2 separate regions of the Homo sapiens genome follow, and region 2 is linked to region 1. The links come from fine-mapping of genetic effects on gene expression. Tissue or cell type: skeletal muscle. Region 1 holds a variant in brackets; the other region holds the start of a gene. All regions are shown on one strand. Distances are between the middles of the regions.

Evidence for each region. PIP is the estimated chance that this variant, and not a neighbour inherited with it, causes the effect.
Region 2: PAM starts here. The variant in region 1 is fine-mapped to the expression of PAM in skeletal muscle (GTEx, PIP 0.97). The same link has a PIP of 0.9 or more in macrophages, monocytes, monocytes after LPS, monocytes after Pam3CSK4, monocytes after R848 and monocytes after interferon gamma.

What each region holds. Positions count from the first base shown.
Region 1 is chr5:102,864,374-102,867,057 of GRCh38, forward strand. PAM (peptidylglycine alpha-amidating monooxygenase) reads left to right here. Exons shown (of 26, transcript NM_001177306.2): 2 at 1,450-1,911. The coding sequence starts at 1,823. Among named protein-coding and RNA genes, the nearest start is that of PAM, 110 kb to the left of the region's middle. RefSeq lists a silencer at 1,743-1,872. The variant C/G (reference allele first, on the strand shown) is at 1,513.
Region 2 is chr5:102,754,016-102,756,699 of GRCh38, forward strand. PAM (peptidylglycine alpha-amidating monooxygenase) reads left to right here and starts at 1,290. Exons shown (of 26, transcript NM_001177306.2): 1 at 1,290-1,333. RefSeq lists enhancers at 319-844, 1,852-2,352, 1,924-2,013 and a silencer at 984-1,533.

The DNA of each region.
Region 1 (2,684 bases):
CAAGCCAAAGAGAAAGTTCAAACAAATATTGTCAGTCTTTTAAAAATGTCATTGCTTATGTAAATTAGCTGACCCTTGACTGCTGGTGAGCCTCAAGCATCCTTGATTTGGTTGGATGTTAAGTCAGGTTTTATTTATATTTGGTATATGGTATCTAGAAAGCACTTATCATGAAGAATCTCACTTCATTTAAGGTTAGTGCTTTTTTATTTGTTTTGGTTCTAGGTTTTTGTTTTGTTTTGTTTTAGATTAGCTTCACTATCTTGTGATTTCCAGAGGCTGATGTATTACTGTGAAACATTCCGATATGATTTTTCCTTATTTTTTCTTTTTACTGTTACACATCTTCCCATCAAATTCATTTGAGATTCTTGGAACGATGTTTATAGTTACTGACTAAAATAAAACTTTAATCTCTTTCTTTGGAAGTACAGTATTTTTATATTGTGAATTATACAGTTTTAATTTATGCCTTCAGACTAAAATTTGCAGGTTTGATAACATAGTTTTAAATATATTCAGTCAAAATATGAATATTTTCAAGTTTAACCTAGTTGAGTCCTCTTATAAAACGTTGAGCTGTAACATTAGTTCTTCATGGCCTCTCATTTGTATTAATGTGACGTTCTTGATCATAACCTTTGAAGATAAAATTCATTTGGGGGGCAGCTAAGATTCTCCCTACTCTTTCTAATTATGTTGTAAAACTCCAAACTTAGGAAAGGATATCTTTTGGAAGGCATGCCTTATGAGTACAAAATTATTATTTTGCTTATGAGATGCAGGATTTTTAAATGGGCATTTACATCTTGTGTATCATGTTAGCTGTAGAGTTTTTGTTTGTTTTAAAATAATTCTGAGAACTTGGGCAATTCTGTGATGATCCTTGGGAGCTCTTGGTAGGAGATATCATTCCTCTTGGATCTGTAGCTCTGTGATGCATGTATATAAGCATGCCTTTGTTCTCAAAAGTCTTTTTCTATCTGATTACTGTGGTATCCAGTGCTTTGTCTTTGCCTCTCTTCGTTTTTTGTTTTGTTTTTTTCCTTGCGCCTTAGCCGGTCATTTGTGTGATGTTTACATTCAGCAGAGAGGTATTTAGAGCATTTTTGGTGAGAGAAAGGAGTGATAGAGGAAGTAAAGAGAAATTCAGACTGGGGTGGCTGTGAGGGATAAAGGGGGGAAGAAGTAGGAAAAGAAAACAGGAGTGGGTCCAAGGGAGGAAGAGCAAGCAAAGACAGAACACCGGCTCTACAGGGGCTGCGCCGTGGGGGTTCCTGAAATCTTGGGGGCTGGCTGTGGGGGAGGGAGCTCAACAGACCAGCATTTTCCCCAGGCTTGGGCGCAACCTTGTGAAACTACTAATGTATTAAAGAACCTCAGCTGGGATTTGCTGAGGACAAATGCTGTAACGTGTTAGTCATCCATTATCTGCTTCTATTTTTGCAGGTTCTGAATGATGACTGACGCGGGTTTGGGTGATACCCCTCACAGCCCCTGTCATTCCGGAGT[C/G]ATAAGGCACCCGCGCGTCTAGCCCCAGCGCCAGGGCACGCGAGCGGCGCTGGAGGGAGGAAAGCTTCCGCCTGCGGGCCGGACAAAAGTCCCGCCTGCCCACGGCTTTTTGCCCGCCGCTCGTGACCGAGACGCCTCGCCGCGGCCAGCTCGCTGCTCTCGCTGGCGGATGGTGTGTGGCCGCCGCAGGACGCCCGCCGTGCCCGGGCCATGAAGTAGCGGCTGCTGGCGGCGCCGCTGCCCAACCGCCAGCCCCAGCCCCGCGCTGCGCTGCCCGGTCCTCTCCCGGCGGGGTCGTATCGGCGTGGACATGGCTGGCCGCGTCCCTAGCCTGCTAGTTCTCCTTGTTTTTCCAAGCAGCTGTTTGGCTTTCCGAAGCCCACTTTCTGTCTTTAAGAGGTGGGTGTTCGTTGTTCGGGTGCTTTCTGTGCATGCTGTTGAGAAATGTAATCACTTTTATGAACCTGAGTGTTGGCAAAATAGACGGGGTTGATGTTCTTTGCTGGAATGACTTGGAATTTTACCACAGTAACTTCTTGTGAAGTCCCCCGTGCAGAAAAAGCCCACTGCATTGTAGCCAAGCAGTTCTGGCTTTCAAAACTCCAATTAGAAGTTGTGATTTCCAAAACTAATCACTCCCTCTGGGGGAGGTATTTCAGGAACTACAATATATTCGCTTAGTTTTGAATGCCTGCTTGTTTATAACAGCTCGAAGAATAAAATATAAGGATACATCAGTGTCGAGGAGAAGCAGATCATAGACTGTAATAGCTCACAAGGAAACACTGAGCTGTATACAAACGCCTCATAATTACTTTATTAAATATTTATGTACTTGTACATTTGTAATTCACATCGCAGTCTTTTATTTCTTCCTCCTAACAGCTCTGCCTCCTAGCAAGATTATGGTTGGCTTTCTTGTTTCTAGCTAGTAATTCTGGACACTGAAAATAGTTACAGAAATTTTTACTGGGTCATGGTTAATATTTCTGCCATTAGAAAATTGGCATGCCTGTGATAATTTGTAATGTATTAATACTATATCTTCATTAACTTGAAACAGATATATGTTTTGACATATTTTTATATGACATAATTTTTTATAAATTTTCAATAAAAACAAGTTTTTATTGAATGGAGTTTTAAATGTAGCCTGGTTGATTGCATTGGTT
Region 2 (2,684 bases), 110 kb before region 1:
TGGAAAGACCAGAGCTGGGTGCTGGGGATCTGGAGCAGCTCGGGACCCGCGCTGCAGGGAGCTGGGATGGGAGAGGTGAGGGAGAGGAGGATGGGACTCTGGGAGAAAGAGAGGGGGCTGGGCTGGCGCTGGGGATGGAAGAGGCGAGGTGAACGCACTCAAGCGGTTACCTGCAGACAGGGAGAGACAGTGGCAAATACCTGCCTTCAATTAAACGCATATCAATTTGTGTGTGGGGTCAGTACTGCACATCATCAAGCCTCTTGGGTATAAAACCTTCCTACTGGAACTCTCCAGCCCCGCCCCCACCACCCCACGCGCGGCTCCCTGCTTTCTCTTGCTTTGGGGTGAGGCTGGGGATGTGGGTGGCTCCAGAGTTCCCTGCCCGCAGTTTAGGGGCGAAGTGATCGGTGTGTGCGCGCTGGGCACTCTGCGGGTTAAAAAGGTTTAGCAGAAAGGGATGCAGATGGAGGCGGGAAGCCAGGCTAAGAAAGGGATACCGACCTCCCTCCTCGGGTCGGAGGTGTGAACTGGGAAGCACTGCGCAGACCTGAGCGAGGTGGCCTGAATCCAGGGGCCGGGCAAGGGGGTGGTGTGAATAGAAATAGCACATTTCCCAGGCTTTCAGCCCCGGTACTCTGCCATCCTTCCAGTTCCATGCACTCAGCCAGGTCTCCAGGCTGGAGCAAGGGCTGGGGGTCAATGGGTCCTTCCTTCTCTCGGGAAACGTTCTTCTGGCGCGAAGCTGGGCGGAGGGAGAGTCGGACATTTTCCTCTGCTTCTCTCAGGGCAGCTGGCGTGGCCACCTCGCAAGGCTGCTTCTAGGGACACGAGACTCGGGAGGGTCAGAGACTTTCAGGCCGGGCCTTCACTCCCTTCCCCGGGGCACTTGGGCAAGAGTTCCAGCTCTTGGCTACCTCTGGCCCGCGCGTGAGTTCAGACACCCAGCACACGCGACCCCCGCAGGGAAACCCCGGGAAGCTGCGCGCAATCGCTGGGGACTCGCCAGGGCTCCACTTCCCAAGCTCCGCGCCCCCTGCGCCCAAAGAGGCAGGGCGGAGCAGAGGCCGCCGGCGTGGAGGAGGCGAGCGCGGGGCTGGCCCGGGAGCCGCCCCCGGGGAGGGACTGAGACCTGCCCCAGGAGTCGAGGGCGAGCGGCGGACCCGGCTGGGCCCGGCGCACGCCGAGGAGAGGGAGCCCCCGCCACCGCCGCTGCCTCCGCGTGCTCAGCCTGTCCCCGCCCAGGGAGCCGGAGCCTCCAACTAACTCCGCCCGCCGCTCCGCCGCCCGCAGGCTCCGGCTTCCGTCCCGGACAGAGCCCGTGGTCGCGCAGGTTGGTGTTGTTGCCGCTGCTGCCGCCACTGCGAGGCGGTCAGGGCAAGGGTGAGGGTGGGGGCGCGGAAGGGGGCCTGGGCTCGGGATCCTGCTGCCACCAATTCCTGGTGCCCCAGGAGGTTGTTGCTTTTTCTCCCGGGCTGCCCGGGTCGGGGGTGGGGGGATGGGGCGGGGATCCAGCGATGCGGCCAGGGAGGATTTTGGGGACTGAGCTATTCTCGCATTTCCCAAACCTCTCTCACGACCCTTCATCACCATTATTAAGTCCCTGGCCAGTTTGTGAGGGGTCGTCCTCCCCTCCGGTCCTTCTCACCTCCGCACTTCTCCTTGTGCCCTCTCCCTAGGGGGTACAATTTGTTCATTCGCCTTTTCTGCCCCCAACTTGGAGAACTCTCCGTGACGCCTAGAAAGCCTCCTCGGTTCTCCGCCCGCCCTTCAGTCTAGTTTGGGGAAGTAGAGGCCGCCGCGGAGTAGCAACCTGGGGTGTGGAGTGGGGGCGAGTGCCGGGAAGCAGTGGAAATTCCTTCCCCTCTTTCTTTCCCGTCCTTGCCCAGCTTTGCTCTCTTCCTGCCGTTTTGCCAGCCTCCGAATGTAATACGCGGGCGAAGGGCGATCTCCAAGGCAGAATGGGAAGTATCCACCACTTGGGATACTAGTTAAGTCTAGGTTCAGTCACCTTCCCAGCTCTGTGGCCTTGGGACCCGCCCCATCGGAACCTGTATGTTGTCATCTGCAAAATATGCGTCAGCTCTGCCTGCCGCTGAGGGTAGTTGTGGGGCTCCCTTGGGATGACTTAGGGTATTACGTGATTTTGAGCACGGTCTCTTGTCTCGTGCAGCTGCCTGATGGCAGGTCCTGTGTTCTGATCGTCTGAGTTCAGGTCCTTTGGCTGAGATGTGATTATCTCTCTGGGTGATTTGGTCAGTAGCTTTGCGGGGCTAAAAGGCATGTGTTCCTGGAGCTGGTCATTGGGGTTCAGAGTTGAAATCGTGTCGTCCCCACCAATCCCTGTGTACAAAGCTATGGACCTTACATCCTGTGCCTTTGTGGTCATAGAAATTCAAGTAGAAGGAAGATCTTATTGGACTTTGTTTGCTTCAGATGTTTTACATTCTTTACAATCGCTTTTCTCTTCTAGGTGCAAACTTAAATTTACTGCTAATTCTAATAATCCAGGAAGGATACTTTCATTTTAGTAAAATCAGACATTTAGCTCAAATAACATGTGACATATTGTTTGTAAATTTTCAGTTTATAATCACAGGCACAAAAAAGCATAGTTCATGCCATTCTAGTTACTTTATAAAGCAAGTAAATGGCCTAAAAAATCAGCTTTACAGGAAGTCAGG